2 separate regions of the Homo sapiens genome follow, and region 2 is linked to region 1. Evidence: fine-mapped expression QTL. A gene starts in region 1. The other region holds a variant in brackets. All regions are shown on one strand. Distances are between the middles of the regions.

The links. PIP is the estimated chance that this variant, and not a neighbour inherited with it, causes the effect.
Region 2: its variant is fine-mapped to the expression of FZD10-AS1 in tibial artery (GTEx, PIP above 0.99). The same link has a PIP of 0.9 or more in atrial appendage and subcutaneous fat.

Annotation. Positions count from the first base shown.
Region 1 is chr12:130,156,690-130,166,804 of GRCh38, reverse strand. FZD10-AS1 (FZD10 antisense RNA 1) reads left to right here and starts at 5,127. Exons shown (of 4, transcript NR_033834.1): 1 at 5,127-6,148. FZD10 (frizzled class receptor 10) reads right to left here and starts at 4,341. Exons shown (of 1, transcript NM_007197.4): 1 at 1,065-4,341. The coding sequence starts at 3,862. The coding sequence ends at 2,117. RefSeq lists enhancers at 1,515-2,060, 2,146-3,141, 4,728-5,294, 5,295-5,861.
Region 2 is chr12:130,116,301-130,126,415 of GRCh38, reverse strand. No RefSeq gene overlaps it. Among named protein-coding and RNA genes, the nearest start is that of FZD10-AS1, 40 kb to the left of the region's middle. The variant C/A (reference allele first, on the strand shown) is at 5,061.

The sequences.
Region 1 (10,115 bases):
TCTTTTACTTTGCCTACCTAGCTGGTGTTTCCTCCGTTTGTCAAACTTGATCCCAAACCACCGATCTGCCTGCTCCTGTGCCCTGCAAATATTCACGGCCAAGTGCAGTAGCCCCTCAAAGCCAATGTAAGCCTGTTTCCAGCCCTAGTGTTGATGGGTGATCTTATGTTTACCAGGCTGAAGTTCTGAACACCCTCTTCAGAAAACAGACTGCACTAGCTCCAGGCTCTCCTCCTCGTTGGTAAGCGTGTCATCCATGCTCCAAGTTTTCCAGAGCTCCTTGTTTAACTTGGAGCTGGACAAAAGCATGGCCCCAGGGGCAGCTTGGCTTGCTTTATATTAATAGAGTCCTCACCACAGTAGGACTGCACTGTGCCCTTGCTTCCTTCTGGCTGGAACTTGAGTGTAGCTGTGCCTTTGACCAGCAGACCTGGGGCAGTTCTTTACAGCTACCCAGTTCTAACAGGAAACCCTGGAGAAGAACCAAGTACCATGAAGTTCCAAAGCTGCTTAACTTCCTCTTAAGGATTCGCCACCCTTAGCAGGTATTTTATCCCGTCCAGGTCTATAATCTGTTTTGTAAATGTCTTCATAGTTCAGAGTCACTGCAAAGCCAGCACACTTTGGGCTGATGTATACAGCTCTGTCTAGGTACCATTTGAGCCTAGCAGGTCAATTGAATACAGATGATTTAATTCTCCTAATCGGTTGGCTCTACTCTCTGAATATATTAAAACTGGCTAATCCAGGCTCATGAGTGGGTCCACGCTTAGTGGTGAGGCTCTCCTTGGTGATGTGTGTCTACAACTAAGCCCTCATGTCCAGCTACCAACAGTCACAGAAACGACTTCCAACTTCACACATTGCCTGACTGCAGTTCCTCAGAAACTCACAAGTGAATGATTCTTCCAATCTTGGAATCCTCTGATCTGCAATTTTATACAGATAACCAGTACTCTCTGGCTAGAAGCACAACCCCAGAATTTGCTTAAAAAGCAAAGGGAGAAAGTGTCCTGTAGTCTCTCCACACACAGAGAAGGGAAACCTCACCATGAACCAGGGACTAGCAGCAAACTAAAGAACATATTTTATTTTTAATAAAATAGTGGAGCATGAAAAATATCATATATTACAAATATACACACGCAGAAACCACTCTTTCCTGGCACTGTGAAGAGAATACACTAGACAAAGTGTCTCTGCCAACCTAGTGCTTCCTGATCTGTTTGTGGAAATCATTTGTTTAACAATAGAAAGAGTCAATAAGCCCTTTGGGTAACTTTTGAATGATCCTTCTCCCTCTTCCCCCCTCCTTTCCACAAATCAGTCCAAACGTCTATAACATTGGCTTGGTTTCCATTAAAAAGCCACAAAATGTAGCACTGAAGGGTTTCTGAGGGCTGGGCCTCTTAGTTCTTTTGTTAGGAGATTTCTTTTGTTGTCTTTATATATAGCAAAATACTTGTTTCTCTTTTTATTTTCAAGGAAAGAGAAAAAAATGTATTGCACATCGTTTGAGTTCACAAATGTGAGGTTTGATGGAGGTTTCTGTCTTGCAGAGAGACTATTGGTGAAGGCCGGAGTCTATTTTAAGCAACTCCAAATCCACTGGGGTGTGAGGCGGGCCCCGGGTCCTGTCTTTCCTCTGCAGGGATGCCGCCCAGCACTGTGGCCTTCCTGGGGGTGGGCCCTGGGGATGGCTCATTTGTTAACCCAGGGGAGGCTCTTGAATTTGCAAAGCAGTTATCTGTCCTCTTATTTGTAAATGGGTAGCAAAGCCAACTCAAATACACAGATGTATATTTAGGGAGGGCTCTAAACAAAAGTTTTCTTCTGAGGGCTGAATCAACTACTTTACCACAAATTAGTTACACAAGAGGCTACTTCACTGGAGGAGCTTCCCTTCGCTGGAAAACCAAAACAAAACAAAACCCTTTAAGTACATTTTTCCTTTCAGTGTATCACAGCATCCTGAATTTCAGGGTAAACACTTTTTTATGTATTTCTCTTTTGCTTTTATAAAAAAAAAAAAAGAAGAAGAAGAAAGAAAAACACAACCAAGAAAAGCACCACATCTTAGCTCCGGGCGCCCCTGTGCCCTTCCCTCCAGCCCTGTTCACACGCAGGTGGGCGACTGGGCAGGGATCTCATATTTCCCGTGGTGAGTTTTCTGGGGATGCTGGGCTTTTTTGTAAATCCCACCGCTGGTGATCACGCTGGCCGGTTTTCTCCGGCTCTTCTTCTTTAACCTACGGCTGCACACCTGCTGCCAGGACTGCAGAGTCTTGGAGGTCCAAATCCACATCCCGCTGGTGATCCCCACCACCAGCAGCATAAAGATCTTCACCATGAAGATCTCCACGGCGGGGATGGAGGCGGCCATCAGGCAGTCCAGCGTTTTAGTCTGGTTGTTCATTTTGCACTTGTGCTGCGCCGCCAGGATCTTCCAGTAATCCATGTTGAGGCGTTCGTAAAAGTAGCAGGCGATCACACAGGTGGCCGGCACGGTGTACAGCACAGAGAAGAGCCCGATACGCACCATGAGCTTCTCCAGCTTGTCCGTGTTCTCGCCGCCCGTCTTCATCACCCTCCGGATGTGGAACAGGGCCACGAAGCCCGAGAGGATGAAGGACGTGCCGATGACCAGGTAGCAGGCCAGGGGAATGAGCACGAAGCCGGTGAGCGCGTTGACGTCCATGCTGCCCACGTAGCAGACCCCGGTGAGCTCGTCCCCCGCCACCCTGCGCATGACCAGGATCAGGATGGTCTTCACCGCCGGGATGGCCCAGGCTGCCAGGTGGAAGTAGCTGCTGTTGGCTTCGATGGCCTCGTGGCCCCACTTCTTGCCGGCGGCCAGGAACCAGGTGAGCGTGAGGACCACCCACCACAGCGAGCTGGCCATGCCGAAGTAGTAGAGGACCAGGAAGACCAGCGTGCAGCCGGTGCTCTCCAGTCCCTCCTGGATGACATAGAGCTGGCCGCTGTCCCGGTCGCAGGCGATGCTCTCGGCGCCGGCGAAGAGGCGGATGAGGTAGCCCACGGAGTAGACGCAGTAGCACATGGAGAGGAAGATGATGGGGCGCTCGGGGTAGCGGAAGCGGGCCGGGTCGATGAGGAAGGTGAGCACGGTGAAGGCGCTGGAGAAGAAGCACAGCACCGCCCAGATGGCCAGCCAGACCACTGCGAAGCGCTTGTCCTCGCGGCTCCAGTACACGTCCACGCCGGGCGTGCAGAGCGGCGCGCACGACGCGCTCTTCTCCACGTGGTGGAACTTGCCCGGGTTGTCGCAGCCGCCGCGCCCGGGGCCCCCGTCCTTCAGCGGGTGCTCCTGCGCGCTGTGGGGCCGCTGCGGCCGGAACAGCGGCGGGAACAGGCCCGAGCCCCGGGTGGGCTCGTCCGAGCCGTTGTTGGGCGCCTCCATGCACAGGTAGTTGGGGTCGTTCTTGTTGGGGAGTTTCCGGCAGTCCAGGGAGTCGGGCCACTTGAAGTTGAACTGCTCCATAATCGGGGAGCACTTGAGCCGGGCCTGCTCGCACATGACCCGGCAGGCGGGGATGGGGGTAGAGACCTGCTCGGTGCACATCGGCGCGTACAGCGAGCACAGGAAGAAGCGGAGGTGGCCGTGGCAGCCGTACTCCACCAGCGGCGCGAACTCGTGCAACTGGATGGCTGCCTCGCGCTGGTTCTCGTGGCCCATCAGGTTGGGCATACGAGTCATGTTGTAGCCGATGTCCTTGCACATCGGGATCTCGATGGGCTGGCATTTGCCGTCGCCCGGGCGCTCCATGTCCATGGAGCTGATGGCGGCGCACGAGCCCATCACCTGCAGGACCAGCCACAGGCGGGGGCCCGGGCGCTGCATGCTGGCGTTGGACGTGTCCTCGCGGGGAGCTCCGCGCCCCTCAGCGCCGCCGCTCCCGGGCACGGGCTGCTGCTGGCCCCGGCTCTCCACCCCTGCTCGGGCCCCCGCCCATGCCCGCCCGGCCTGGCCCGAGCGCTGCGCACAGCGCCCCCGGCTCGGCTCTCCGCGCCCGGCGTCCGCCGAGTTGGGGGCCGCGGCGGAGAGCAGCAAAGTTTGCAAACAATACCGGGAAGCGAGGGAAGCCCCCGGAGCTCCCGGCGCAGCGGCCCGGCGCGAGCTCCAACTCACGGCCGCGGCAAACTTCGGCCTCTTCTTGGAGCGCCCAGGTGGCGCGTCTGGAGCGGGCTGGCGGCGCGGGCACACCGAGGCCGGCCCAGCTCGCGGCGCCCCCACAGCCCGGGCGGCTCCTCCCTCCCTGCGCCGGCCTCGGCCGGGACCAGCCGGCAGCTGTTTCGAGGTTTGCGTCCCGGGATGAGAAGACTCGCAAAAAGGCAAAGGGGGGCAGAAAAGCCGAGCGCTGACAGGCCCCGCCCCCGGGCCGCGCGCCCCGCCCCGCCGCTGCTTTGCATGAGAAAGCGCAGCGGCCCGGGGCAGCCTCCTCCCCGCCGCCCCGCCGCGGGCTCCCGGGCCCCGCGGGGGCCGATCCCCCCCGGCCTGCAGCCCAGCCTGCGGGGGGCGCAGCGCCTAGTCCCGCCCGCGTCGCCCGCCAGCCCCGGGACAGCCCGCCTGGCGCGCGGGGCTCTGCGCGCTGCGACCCTCCCCGGCAGTCCCGCCCGCCTCTCCTCGCCCTCTCTCTGCCTGGCCTCCAACTTTGCCTCTCGCTATCCTCTCCGCCGGCGCCCCCTTTCCCGGCGGTCCCCGGGATGGTCCCCGGCACCCCGAGGACGCCGAGGTTACGGGAAGTTCGGGGACTGGCGGGAGAAGGGGTTTGGGGGTGGTCCGCGGCGAGGGGCGCGGGGTGCATCTTCTCTTCCTTTTATGGTGAGTCCCGGGCGGAGGGCGCTTTCAAAGGGAGGTGGGATTTGCGTTTTATAGCCTGGGCCATAAAGTAGGCCCTTGCTTGTAAACCTGCCCGCATCTTCCTGAGGCTGGGGAGGTGCTACCAGCCCCGGGCTCCGGGCTCCGAGGAGGGATTTTCTTTGAAATTTCAAAGAGACGAGCTAAGGGGAGGGGGAGGGGCTCGAGAATCCGGATTTTAGGGCCGCTCATCCGAGGTCTCCTCTAAGAAGGCGGGAAGGGGGAGGGGCGGGAAGCGTCCCGGGACTTTGAACACCGCCTCCCACCCCGCGGGAAGTGCGGGCTTGGTTTGTACCGCGGTGACCCCCGCCCCCTCCGAAGCCGCAGAGCCGGGGCCTCGCGCCAGCAGGGCTGGAGATGCCTTCTTGGCGGCTGAGTTTATTTATTATAGGAAGTCATTCGCTCGTGGGGTATTTATGTGATTTGGCGAGTGATGTGCCCGGCCAGCGCCCTCCTTGGCTGCAGCCCCGCAGGAGGACCCGGAGTAGGGTGGGATGGAGTGGGTCGTGGGAGGAGCGCGTCAGCGCCTGCCCGGGGACCCCCAGCTCCCGCGAGGACACGGAGGCGCGCACGCCGCTCGGTTTTCCTGGAAAGTGGAGAAGGAGCGTCCTGGGCAGGTCCTCTGAGCTCATCCCCCCTCGGATTGGGGCGGGTCTGTGACGGGGTCACTTAGGACACGACGTCCCCCCGCCATTCCCTTCCCCCGCCCAGGGCGTTCGCGGTGGGCGCCCACCGCCAAGCCCCACTGTTCCCAAGGATGCGCCAGGTGCTTCCCGTAGCGTCCTGGGTTGACCCTTAAAAAAACAGCACCCCTAGGAGGTGGCCGGCCCTCTCCTCCCAGGGTCTCTCCGGGTCACGATCTTCCAAAGTTCGGAAACTCGCAGGATCGCGTGTGCAATCTCCCGCTACCTCCCGGGGGGCCGGGGAGAGGTCAGAGGAGCGAGTCCCGCGTCCACCGGCCTCGCTTGCCCCCTGCCCGTTTGAGGATAGTTCCAGGGAGCAGGGTGGAGTGTGCGGACATCTTTGGAGGCAGTGCTGGGGCTTCCCGCGTTGGCGGCGCTCCACCCGGCGTGGGGGGCGGCTGCACGGGCCCCCGCGGTGGGGACGCTGCGCACGGGGCAAGGTCTCCCTAGGAAGCGCCCGGGAAGGAGATGGGGCCCGCCAGGAACCCCCCTCACTGACCAGCTTTCTGCACGCCGTGCAGGAGGGGGCCACTTCCTCGGAGAGTATTGGCTTTTAATTAAAACAAGCCCTACAATTTTTACATCGGTAAGAAACTTGGGGAAATCTCACCTTTCCACTCATTCATTCATCCGTTCAACAGACATTTGAGCGCCCAGAATCCCAGAATTAATAGGCAGGTTCAGGCACCCACCCCTGGGTCGCTGTCCCTGGGTGTCCTGGGTCTCACTAGGAGGTGCTGGAGGAAGTCGGGGTGAGGGAGAAAGTGAAAAAGAAGGTAGAAACTCCGGGCAGTTAGAACACCACCTTCAACTGTGTTATTTCCCAAGTGAAAAGTTGCATGATTTTATTTTTGAAAGACTGCCATTTTTATTATAGTGTTTTTTTTTTTGTTGTTGTTGTTTTTTGTCTAGTGAGTAATTTTTCAGGACCTTTAAATTAAAATTAATTCAGCGGAAATCACTTGGCTTTTCTAGAATTTTCCTGGCAAAGGTCCTTCCTGGGCCCTATTTTCCTTCTTTTCCTTTTTGTGTCTCTCCCTCAGCAACTATTAGAAATATTTAGTGCAAGAGTGAGAGCCAAACGCCGGGAGCTGGGTGTGAGCTATTTGAGAAAGTGCCTCCTAATTGATCTTTTCTGTGCTGTTTTAATTCAGCCACGTTCAGGCCCATTATTTTAGCTATAACCACTTCAGATTGCCTTTTTCTCTCGTTTTTTATAAAAATGTCTGCAGAAGTGCTTCGCCCTGTCCAGCTGAGATGGAAACCAACAAATAGACTTTATTATAGAGAAATGAGGGTTCTGAGAAATCAGCAACTGGAAGATAAGTCTGTAACTAATAAATGAAAAGGCTCTTTTGATGGCCCCAGCTGAAAAGATATTTTATTTTATTTTTTTTCCTGTGTGTGGGATTTGAGATGTGTGAGTCTAAGGAGCAGCCGGGGTCCCCCGCTGCTCAGCCCTGGCTGGCAACCGACCCCCCTCTGGCAAATGTTATGGAGAATTGGGAGGAATTTTATGGCTGTCTTTCCCTCAGCTCTTTTTTCTTTTGTCTTCTTTGAAGAATGACTTTAGACATTTTATTTACATATTTAACCATGGATGAAAGACGGAAAAGAAAGCTTTGGAGCCGTCGTGGGAATAGTGATATGTTTAAATTAATGGAAATCTTATTAGGCTTCTAAAATTTTGAGCAAAGATTTTTAATGAAACTTTATAATTAAACATGATTTCACATAACGTGCAGAGACAAGGAATATGTTTTTACCCCCAACCACCTAAAAATGTCTGTCTATCGGAAAGCTATCAGTAAACATTATCCGCCTTCAGGTTCTTGCAAACGTTCACCAGGGAAAGTATGAGGTTTTTGAGAGAGAATATTTCAGGAGTCAGGCAGTGTTTTGAACAAGAACTAAATATTTTTTGGAGGTGGAGGGGAATTGAAAGAGAGGCCCAGTTTCATTCCATTTAAACTCACAAAGTCAAAAGTATAAAAGTACTTTGACACGGATATTGCTAAAAATCAAAGTTGTATCTTTTCTTATTATGTAATAGTCAATGGAAATTATAAGCACTGTGCGAGGTTTTCTGAAATGGGATTAGAGAAAACCCAAATAATCTCTTTAAGATAAAAAAGTACTGAGTCTTTCAGCAACAGAAAGAAATTAAACCATAAGCTTAGCATGTTACAAGCTAATTGCAAGAGTAAACTGGTGGCATAGGAAGAAAGCTCATAAACAGAAGTAAAATCGTGCTGGTGAATGTTGAGATAAAAAGTGGTTCAGGCTGTCGCAACGCCTTTCAGTAGCTGCTGCTTGAATCACCTCTCTTGGTACATTCAAGTGTGAGGATCCACGTAAGTGATTCTTGTGTTTCTTCTCTTGTCTTCTCGTGTCGTCAATGTTTGTATTTAGTCCGGGACATTTCCAATTCTACCTTCAAGTATGAGAATGAAAACTGATCTATTTACCAATAATTGCTTCACATGCAGGGAAGTCTGATGTGAATAGACCTTGTTTTCTCTGACCTCATCTAGTATCAAGTTTCTGCAGAAACTTATCAGATATAAAACATGCACAAAAAATTATGTTTTCTGATCAAGTAGGCATGCTCCCCGTGGCGTGCCCCCATCTTTTTCTCCAGGGAAAATACCTTTAGTGATCTGAAGTGATACTTAGCAAAGAAAACACAGTTTGTACCACCAGAAAGGCCATGCAAGTCGCAGCGAATTCAACAGGCGCAAAAGTTTTAATTCTGCCTAAAAACACTGGCTGTGAGATGTGGAGGTTTGGGGGAAGGTGAGAAATGAACCCCGAAGCACCCCCATCCTAAAGTGGATGAGTGGGGTGTCCAGTGTGGCTCCAGCACAATTTAGGCAGCTATTTTAAGGCCACTTCCCTTGAAATGTGGTTTGAAATATTACCAAAGGTTCCACGGGGTGCACTAGTGTGAATTGCAAATCAGAGCATTGATTTAATCCTCTTTCAAGGCCGGGCTTTGGATCGCTGGCGTCGACTGGCTCCCCACTGCTCCTGGCTCAGGAGGGACCATTCAAGGGGGCAGCTTCCCGCCTCTATTCCCACACTCCAAAAAACAACACCGCAGACAGACACCCTCCAACTAAATTAGATTAAACTCCTTCTCTTCCACAGCGTATTAGCCTTTTTGCTGCCCAAGCCTCCTTACGCAGCCCCTCCTCATTTAAAGACACAGATTTCTTTTTCATCTCTGCAACTGCAACAACAACAAACACAATCATATATATATATATAGTGTGTGTATATATGTGTGTGTGTGTGTATATATATGTGTGTGTATATATGTGTGTGTATATATGTGTGTGTATATATGTGTGTGTATGTGTGTGTATATGTGTGTGTATATATATGTGTGTGTATATATGTGTGTATATATGTGTGTATATATGTGTGTGTATATATGTGTGTGTATATGTGTGTGTATATATGTGTGTGTGTATGTGTGTGTGTATATATGTGTGTGTATATATATGTGTGTGTGTATATATGTGTGTGTGTGTGTGTGTATATATATATATATATTTTTTTTTTAAAGAGATAAAGCCAGCCTTCTAAGTGCTCTTACATGGCAAGGACGTTATCTGTTTAAAATCCAGGAGGGCGTCGCCTACCTGTTCTGAAACTCAACAAATTAACCCTTAACCTGGGGCAAACCTAGAGCCTATTCACAGTGCTTCAACCTGCAATTCTGTACTGGACTGTTTTTGGAGGAATATATGAGAAAAGAAACATCACAGAATTCCAGAAACACGACACAAAAGAGTGTGTGCGTGTGTTGTTTTGGTTGGTGTTTGTATTCCAAACAGCTTGAGCGGACAGCTTATCGGAAGCGCGTGCCCATTCTGTGAGTTCAGACTTCATACCTGGTCTTCATTGCTTTGCTCCTTGTCCCCTCCCTTAGCTGTTTGGGATGTGCTGATTTAATTACTCCCCTTCCCATCTGTTTTCTTTCGGCTTCCCTCCTGCACCCTGGGACCCTTTTGCCTGTTCTGGGAGCTGAGTGGGTCAGCTCATCACAGGCCTGCGGCCCCTGCATGGGTGACAGAGGAGGCAAAGATGACACAGAGAAACTATCCCTTCAGGGACAGAGTGGGGACACCCACGAGCTTGGCTCTGCCTTACAAAGAAATGAGAAGGAACCCCGTTCCTGCTTTTCACCTTAGGTGAGCTCTGAATCTGCAGCCACTCACCAAACGCCTGAGCAGCCCCGCACCACAGTGATGATCTGGGGAGGAAACGACCCGGATGCCTGGGTCTGAATCCCCCTCTTCCACTTTCTAGCCCCATGACCTCAGATATGCCACTTCTAATTGCTCTGCCTCGGTTTTCTCATCTGCAAAATGGGACCAGCAGAGTTCCCGCTTCCCAAGGCACGATGAGGATGATGTCATAACACACTTGGAAGCGTTGATGGCAATACCAAGCACCAAATAAGTGCTCAGTGATGAGTAGCGGTTATTATTGTTGAAATGCAATATAAATGGAGGGAGAGAGCACAATAAGGAGAGGCACTGGAA
Region 2 (10,115 bases), 40 kb after region 1:
CTTCGCTTGGCCACCCCCACCCCTGCCCTTCCCTGCCCTGACTGCGGCAGAGGCCCAGGTCCCCTTCTAAACTGCGTGAGGCTTCCTGTTGCTGGGAAGCACAGGCCCCAAGTGGCTGTGAGGTCCGTGAGCCAAGCGTGGGCAGGAATGACACGCCCAGGAGGAGTCATCCGAGGTGCAGGGGATGGCCCGGAGGCGGGTGGGTGCAGCCCAGCCTCACCCCTGTGTGCGTGTGTGTGTGCTAAGGGCAGGCTGGGCTCGCCACACCGCCCTTCCTCCAGATAGGCCCTGCTGGTCACCAGCCACACATGACCCAGCTGCTCAGTGACTCCACCTCCAGGCAGGCGCTAGGATGGGTCCCAATGCATCTGGCATAAAATCCACACCCTGTGCCATGGCCCCTGAGAACCCCTGGTCTGGCTTCTCACCTCCTGAGGATCTCCTCCTGGTCCCTTTCCCAGCCCCCGTGACTCCGGGCCCTCACAGACCCATCCTCTGTTCCTGGAGGACTCCAGCCCACTCTCCTCCACCCTGCAGCCTTGGCACGTGCTCTTCCCCATCCCCAAATGCACTTTCCCAGGGAGTCCCACAGCCATTCCCCGCCATCATTCAGATTGCTTGTCACAGGTCACCTCCTCAGGACGCCTCCGTGATCATTCTTTCTAACATTCCAGGCTCCACTATGTTTTCCTATTTATTTCATTCTTTTTCTTTTTGAGACAGGGTCTCACTTTGTCCCCCAGGCTGGAGTGCAATGGTGCCATCTTGGCTCACTGCAGCCTTGACCTCCCAGGTTCAAGCGATTTTCCTGCCTCAGCCCCCCAAGTAGCTGGAACCACAGGCACGCGCCAGCACGTCCAATTTTTTTGTACTTTTTAAAGAGACGGGTTTCGCCATGTCTGTCAGGCTGGTTTCCAACTCCTTTTTTTTTTTTTTTTTTTTTTTTGAGACAGTCTCGCTCTGTCGTCCAAGCTGGAGTGCAGTGGCACAATCTTGGCTCACTGAAACCTCTGCCTCCCGGGTTCAAGCAATTCTCCTGCCTCAGCCTCCTGAGTAGCTGGGCCTACAGGCGCACACCACAACACCTGGCTATTTTTTGTATTTTTAGTAGAGACAGGATTTCACCATGTTGGCCAGGCTGGTCTTGAACTCCTGACCTCCTGATCCACCTGCCTCGGCCTCCCAAAGTGCTGGTATTAAAGATGTGAGCCACTGCGCCTGGCCTGGTTTCCAACTCTTGAGCTGAAGCGATCCACCTGCCTTCCAAGGCGCTGGGATTAGAGGCATGAGTCACAGGCCCCAGCCCCTGTTTCATTCTTTAGAGTGATTATCACTATTTCCAAGGATCCTGTTTTTCTTAGGTCACTTGCCTCTTATGTCACTGCAGCGTAACGGCCTTGAGGACATCATTTGAGTGTCTTTTTTACTTGTTGCCAAGGAAAATGCTTGACAGAGAGTAGGTGTCCAACAGTAGCCACTGGGTGAGTCGGAACGGGTTGTGAAGGTGACCATCTTCATCCTTGGTGTGGGAGCCTCTGGCACCTGCGCCCTGGTGAAGTCCTCTCCCACACGGAGTCAGGAGATAAGAATGCACACCTTCCAAGTTTACACCATCCAGGTCGTTCTCTCCCACACGGAATCAGGAGGTGAGGATGCATGCTTTCCAAGACTACACACTCTAGGCCATCCTCTCCCAAACGGGGTCAGGAGGCAGGTGGGACCCTTTCCAGGCTAGGCATTGGCACGTCTCCAGGAGGTAAGGATGCATGCCTTCCATGACTACACCCCCCTGGCCGTCCTCTCCCACATGGAGTCAGGAGGTAAGAATGCACACCTTCCAAGTTTACACTATCCAGGCCATCCTCTCCCACATGGAGTCAAGAGGTGAGGATGCACGCCCTCCAAGGCTACACCATCCAGATCCTTCTCTCCCACACAGAGTCAGGAGGTGAGGATGAATGTCCTCCAAGGCTACACCATCCAGGCTGTCCTCTCCCACACAGGGTCAGGAGGTGAGGATGCATGTCCTCCAAGGCTATACCATATAGGCCCTGCGGCTCTGCCTGGTCTCCTGGAACACGTGCTTCCAGAGCTTTCAGCCACCACAGAAGAAATACTTCTACCTGAGGCCAGCATGCTGGCGAGGCCATGTGGATAGCCCATAGTCCTAGCTGAGCCCAGCCTTCCAGCCCTCCCTGCCAGGGTGTGAGTGAAGTCACATGGACCCTCCGGAACAGCCTCTTCTCAGAACCAGATACCTCCACATGGGCCCTGTCCAGGCCAAGGAGAAAAGAAGAGTCACCCAGCCCAGCCCTGCTGAATTCCAGACCCATGGAATTGCAAGAAAACCATGTTTTTAAGCTGCTAAATTTTGTATTTGTTAAAGAGCAATAGAAAATCTGAAATCTGAACATTAGGTTATTTATATAACAATGCACCATAAACTGGGTGGTTTATTAATAGCCCATATATATGTATACACACACACACACACACACACACACATTTTTTTTCTTTATCTAGAACAAGCTTGTCCAACCTGTGGCCCATGGCCTGCATGTGGCCCAGGACAGCTTTGAATGCAGCCCAACACAAATTTGTAAACTTTCTGAAAACATTATGAGAAATTTTTGTGATTTTTTTTTTTTTTTTTTTAGCTCATCAGCTATCGTTAGTGTTTGTGTATTTTATGTGTGGCCCAAGACACTCAGTGTGGCCCAGGGAAGCCAAAATTTTGGACATTCCTGCTCTAGAAGTTTCTTCTTCTTCTTCTTCTTCTTTTTTTTTTTTTTTTTTTTTAAAAAAAACTCTAGTGGCCACAAGAAGAAAATAAATGCCTGCCATAAAACAAAAACTTAACAGTTCTAGGAACTTGGGCCTGGCAACCCAACTTTTCATTAAGTCTAAGATACCATTGATTCCATTATTGTTGCCATCTAAGACTAAACCATGACACAGCACCCCAGCTTTAGAGGGTGTTAAATACGAAGAAGGTGTCTTAGAATTAGTGAACAACAGTGAGTTCGCACATCCTAGTGCAAATGGAATCCGGCAATTATTCCCAGCAGAAACGCAGCCCCTGTCGGGAGCCCTGGAGACAGCCTGGCTTCCCTTGCACAGGCATTCACCGTTCAGCCTTGCCATGGCTCTCCAGCTGCTGTTGGACGTTGGGCAAATTGTTAACCTCCCTGAGCCTCAGTTTCCTCATCCAGCAGATGGGGTAACCGTGGAACACACGTCCCCGGGCTGTTGGGAGGATTAAGTGACATGATGCGTGCAAGGCACTTTGCACCATCTCTGGAACCAGCAAGCACTCAGGAAACGCTAGCGATGATGGTGATAATAACGATGGTGATGGCAATGGCTTTTTTTTTTTTTTCTGACATGCCTTCCTTGTCCATGCTGCAGTAACTATTCCATCCTGGCTGAGACTGGGCATGCTTTCTGCTTCGGGTCCTTTCTGCACAGTGGGCAGTTTATAACCTCAGCCAGCTCTGCAGAGGGCAGAATGCCATGGTCCAAATGTTTGTGTCCCTCACAAAATTCCTATGTTGAAATTCTCGCCTCCAAGCTAATGGTTCTAGGAGGTGGAGCCTCTGGGAGGTGATCAGTCATGAAGGTGGAGCCTCGTGGATGGGGTCAGTGCCCTTAGAAAAGAGGCCCAAGGGAGCCCCTTTGTCCCTCCCACCGTGTAACACACAGCAAGGTGCCTGCGTCTATGTGGGAAGGACCCTTGGCAGACACCAATCTGCCTTTATCTTGGATGTCCAGCCTCAGAACTGTGTGAAATAAGTTTCTCTTGCTTGTAAACCACCTGGTCTATGGTAGCTGGTTACAGCAACCTGAACAGGCTGAGACCCACAGATTTACAGCCTCCTCTTCCAGAGTCTGACTCCCTCCCCCTGGTTTTGTCTTTCCTGAAGCCTTCTGCGCCCCGTCCACACTTGCTTCCCCACCCCCCTTTCTCTGCCTTCAGTAGTTGTTTATAATTCAGTTTGAGACAGTAATTTAGAAATGACCTTCTCAAGACCTAGTTGGCATGGGATAAATTATTTTTCCCTAGGGCATTTTATTATTATTTTTGTTTTGTATTATCCTCTTATAATTCATTCACAAAAGCCTGACCTCTCAACAACTTTGTAAACTTCTCATTGACTCCAGGCTACTGACGACTCTTGCTTACCAAATGCAGGCGAAGCTGTTCAGAAGTACAGCGCATCGCTGGAAGATAAGGAATGGATCTTCTGTTGGCAGCATGGAACTGGACCTGGATGACATCAACATTTGCCAATAAATGTGAGTTGAAGCTTTTGTTAAAAAATGGAATATGGAGAGTTGAACCTTCATTCAATAATGATGACAGCATAATGAAGTAGACACTGTTATTTGTCCTGTTGTTCAGATACAGAGACTGAGACACGGGAGAATGAAATGGGGTACTAATGTCGTCCTAGCTACTGTGTAGGATGACACATGGGGTTGGGCTTGGTAGAGGGTATTATGATTATTAGCATGGTTTCCATTACTGCTGTGGTCATTGACGCTGTTGTACTCTGTTTTCCTCCTAGCATTTGGACACATTCTGTCTGCCTGGAGACATTCTGGAAGCACATGCAGGAGAGCCTTGTGTGCCATCTGGCTGCAGTTGGGAAAGGCGAACCTCCCCCGTTTTTGATACTCTTTTTGAACCTTCCCAGTCCACAGAACCCAGTTCCCACATTTTGGGTGGCCAGATTCTCCTCTTCTATGATGGGGAGGACTAAACGCCCTTCACCAACATCCCTCTCAAAAAGCATGGCCGGGAGACTTGCTTTCCTATATCCCTTTAAGAATTTGGGGCTTGATTTTCTCCACTCAGAGGAAGTTGTGATTTAGAAATTTCTGTCCCTCTGTGTCGAACACATAATTAAGATGATGGCCAAGAAATCTGGTCCAATTTTCCAAGTAAAAGCCTGGCCACCGAATGCCCAGCTGTTGATGAAGTTTCCATTTCAGACAGAACTCTAGCCTTGCAAACATTTGGCCCATAAAAGAGTGGATTTTCCCATGGTCAAATGAGT[C/A]ACTGGGAATATTGACTCGTCTTTTAAAAATCAGAGGTCACTTAAAAAAATTGAGTTGAAATGCATGTAACATAAAATGAACGACTTTAAAGCACACAGTTCAGTGGCACTTAATATCTTCACAAGGTTGTGTAAACACCTCTCTCGACTTCCTAACATTGTCATCGCCCCAAAGGAAAGCCTGAACCTGTGATCGGTCACTGCTCACTCCCCTCTCCCGAACACTCAGCTCCTCCCCCTGGCTCCTCTGCTTTCTGTCTCTGCAGATTTTGCCTCTTCTGGGCATTCCGTGGAGGTAAAATCACATGCTACGTGGCCTTTTGTATCCGGCGTCTCTTATCATGTTTTTGGGGTTCACCCATGTTGTAGCATGGATCAGCGCTTCCTCCCTTTCTGTGACTGGATGATATTCTGTTGTGTGGATGGACCACAGTTGTGTATCTATTCGTCCACTGATGGTCATCTGGGCTGTTTCCACGGAGATCGCTTTTAAGGAGAGATCAGAAACAGCTCTGGGCTCAGGGGCACTCTGTGAGCTTTTCTGTTACTCCCCCCAGTCCCCCAGGGGATCCAGTTCACACAGAGGTGTTGAGAGAGTCGGTCCCCACCGTCTCCACAGACCGCAGACCATGGAATCTGATGGTGGACATATGTGAGGCTCCAGAGAGGCGCCTGCAGTGCGGGAGGGCGTCGGTGGAGCCTGGCAGCCCACCCCACCCTCAGAACAGCTTTTGGCCTCAGGAGCAGCTGCAGAATTCAGGCCCCGCCCTGCAGTGACCAGCCTGTCCGGGCTCCGGGGTTCAGTCCAGGTCAGGCCCCACGGCCGCTGGTATTGGGCCGGGCTGCCAGGTCTGGAAGTGCTGGGGAGAAGGAGACTGCAGCCAGGCACCCGCAGGGCTGGGCTGTTACGGTGGGATCGTGAGAAGGGCCCTGAACAGGGATCTGAGCCCCCTGTTTAGCTGCATTCCTTAAAAGTGGTTGTGAGTAGACGGGGTCTCTAGGTTGAGGTGTGAGCTCCCGTCCCCTCCGTGATGCCTCACAGGGCTTGTTGTGCGCGAGGGAATGGTGTCCTCCGGCCCAGCACACGGGCAGCATCCAAGGCACTGGGTCAGGCGACCAAGGAGCTACCTGCACTTTCGCCAGCCCAGACAGGGGACGGGACACCGGAGGTCTGCTGCCAGTGGGGCTTGCGTGTCCCCTCTGAGGCCAGACCTGGGGGTCTGCACGGTGCAGGGAGGGCGCAGCTGGAGAGGCCTGTGTGACCCCCGTAGAGTGTGTGGGTGTGGGTGTGTGTTTCACAGTGTGTGAAGATGCATGTGGGTGTGTGTGAGGATGTGTGTGTGTGCATGGGTGTGTGTGTAAATGAATGCCCCACTGTATGCATGCCTGTGAGCGTGTACGTGTGTAAATGTGGGAGTGAATACGAGTGTGGGATTGCGTGAGGGTGTGAGAGAGAGGATGTCTGTGTGTGTAAGGGGAACAATCTTAGCCTACACGGCAAGTCGGCCATAACCACAGCGACGCTCCCCACGTGTGGGGCTGCTGTGTGGATGGTGCTGGGCCTGGCGATGGGATGTAACTTGCACCCTGGCTTGGAGGGGTGTGTCACGGGGGGTGTGTCACGGGGTGTGTGTCACAGGGTGTGTGTCACGGGGGGTGTGTCACGGGGTGTGTGTCACGGGGTGTGTGTCACGGGGGATGTGTCACGGGGGGTGTGTGTCACGGGGTGTGTGTGTCACGGGGGGTGTGTCACGGTGGCTCCATGAGAGGCCTGAGAGCAGCAACCACAGCCAAGTGAGCAACCCTCAGCAGACAGCAGTGTCCCAGCAGTGAGCCGCTACTACACACCAGCCGTGTGCCCAGCTCTCCCCAGGGCCCCAGATCCAACACAAAGGAGAGGGAGCCGCGCTCATCTTCATGGAAGGGGATGAAGCCAAACCCGCCGTCGTCACTGAGGAGGGCTGCGTGGGAGGCGGTGCCGATGGGGTGGAGGTGAGGATGACATGAAGGGTGGCACCCTGCATTTTTGAGCTTTCTCTGTGCCAGGCACCAGGTTTCAATCGTGCCTCCTTAAACCTGCACCCAGCCCTGCAAGCTAGGTGGTATCACCATCCCACGTCACAGTTGAGGGGCAGAGGAGCCTTGGGGACAACTAGGAACTTGCCCTAACTGCCCTCTTGCGCCAAAGTGAAAAGCGGGGCTGGAAGGGAGCTCCAGAACTTGGAGCTCATATAATCTCTGGCAGAGCCACGCCAAAAAGTACAACCTTAGGGGCCCCATCTGCTGAGGCCAAGGATACCATCTCCTGCCCACATTGCTACACCCCAACCCCGGGTGCCCCCAAGCTAACTAGACTGCAAGTTGCCTCTCGTGACTTTTAAGGGAAAACGAGAGAAGGAGAGTTCATCCACAGCCATGATTCCTTTGATCCCCTCACCTCTCCTTAATTGCATCGGGAGTTCATGCCTTTGTGTGTTGGGGGCGATTACTCTAATTTCTTGCAGCCCAGCGAGAAGTAAGACATTGGTTTTTGCCAAAACTTGCTGTGTGAGCTGCCAGGGATGTCACATCCGGAAATTTTGTGATGAAGAAACTTTTGAAAAAAATTAAAAATCAAAGGGAAGTTTGGGGAAACAGGGCCAGGGGATTTTCGTCTAGTTTCGCCCCAGGAGCTGCTCTCACACCCGCCTGCCCTGTAATCTTCTTGATTCGTTCTGCTGGAGGCAGGCGGTCTAGGAAAAAGCTGAAGCAGGGGCAGAAAGGGAACGTGAGTGAGAAGCAGGTCTGCTGGGGGCCAAAGGAGGCGGGGAAGAGATTGGATGGGGGTTTCTTGGGGGATCCAAACCCTAATCTGGGTGTGGGCAGCTCTCAGGACAGAGTGCTTCCTGTCTGGAGTCCAGTTGCTGCACCTGGTCCCTGTGTTCATGCCGGACTCTCCCAGGGCAGGACCCTCCCAGCCTAGTGGCTGACTGGCATCGGGGGCAGGGCAGGAGAGGGACTCTGGCCGCGTGGGTCTCCTGTGGCTGCTGTAACAAATAACCACCAACTGGATGGCTTAAAACAACACAACTTGACCTGGTACAGTGGCTCACGCCTGTAATCCCAGCACTTGGGGAGGCTGAGGAAGGAGGATCATTTGAGCTCAGGAGTTCAAGTCCAGCCTGGACAACACAGCAAGACCCCGTCTCTACAAAAAATAAAAAAAGAAAAATTAGCCAGGCTTGGAGGTGCACACCTGTGGTCCCAGCTACTCGGGAGGCTGAGGAGGGAGGATAACTTGAGCCCAGGAGGTTGAGGTTGCCATGAGCCGTCATTGCACTATTGCCACCATTGTTGCACTTCAGCCTGGGCCACAGAGCGAGACCCTGCCTCTAGAAGCAAAAACAAAAAAGCAACCAACTTCATTTTCCTACAGCTCTGGAGGCCGGAAGTCTGCAATGAGTCTTTCAGGGCTGAAATCAGGGCTGGCTGCACTCCTTCCAAAGGCTCCCAGGAGAGTCTGTTTCCAGCCTTTTGCAGTTTCTGGAGCTGCCTGCATAACGCAGCTTTCGACCCCTTCCTGGGATCACTCTGGCCTCTTGCTTCCTCCTCTGACCTTCCTGCCTTCCTCCTCAAGGACTCCTGTGATTACATTATCCAGGATCATCTCCTCATCCCAGAGTCCTTAATCACAACAGCAAAGTCCCTTTTTCTATGTCAGGTGACATGTCCAGAGATTCCAGGGATTAGGATGTGGACATCCTTTGGGGGAAACTACAGGCTCAAAACCAAAAGGGAAACAGCCCACTCGAATGGGGTCTCTCCCCCGTGCTTCTTACAGTGAGAATCTGCCTCCCTTTCTGCTCACCCTAGATTTCAGAGCCAGCCTGGGGTGCTCAGGCCAGGAGTAGCACACGTACACAAGTGGCTCGAGCCTGACCCCCTCTTTGGGGCCCCTGGTGCTCGTGCCCCAGCCACAAGGCCGGTTCTCAGAGTGGAGCTGTCTTGGAGGCTCTCATTTGCTGTGAAGGAATAATCCTGGACAAATGCTTTTCATTAAGGAGCCCACGAGACACAATATCAACCTAGCAAGAGGATTAGGCTTTTGCAATGTAAACAACCTAACTATAGAGGAAAGAGACCCTGGCTTTCTATGAAGCTACCTGGAAAACAGCAAATTTCTTTAAAAAAAAACACACACACACACAACAACAACAACAACAACAACAAAAAACAAGCAAACAAACCCTACTAGGTTTCCAAAGTGAGGGGGCAGACAGGGCCCCACCTCCACAGCTCAGGTCTGGGAGCCCCTGCGCCATGCAGCCCCGCCCACCCTCTGCCCTGCTGGGTCTCAGAGATGCCAGAGGAGTTCCTGGGAATTCCCCTGGTACTCTGCCAGCCCAGCAGCCCTCCCACCACGCCCTCTCCCCTGAGGCAAACAGCACCCTAACCCTTCCAGAACATTCTTTGTAGTCACAGAGACAGGGCTGGCCTGGCTGGGTGGATTCAGAGCCCCCGCCTCCTCTGCAGCCTCTTCTCGTCCCCCACCCTCCCACCCAGCTTCACGTCCAGAGAAGGTTGTTCATCCCTCAATGAGGTTGCGCCTGCAGCCCCTGCAGGTGGGAGGAAGGGCCCGTCAAACTCCCAGACCCCCAGCTTCAGCCTCCTGGAAGCGCTTTCTAAAATGAGTCTCATAGTTCCTTATAAACCGCACGATTATCTCTAGGAAGTGGCACTGGAGCGGTGGCCTTCAAACAGAATTAAATCTTCGAGGTATAAGTAGCAAATCGCTCTCCTTCCAGCCCCGTTGGCTTCAGACCTTCCTGAGAGCACACCACTGCTTCTTTTGAAGAAACCCTGGTGTTCCAGGTTGGGCAAAGTCAAGTCAACTCTCACACTTTCTGAGTGCAGGAAAATAAAATACACTACAATTTTGAAATCTTATTTTGGCCCATATTTCATGTTCTTTTTATTTATTTACTTATTTATTATTATTATTTTTTGAGATGGAATCTTGCTCTGTCACCCAGGCTGGAGTGTAGTGACTCGATCTCAGGTCACCGCAACCTCCAC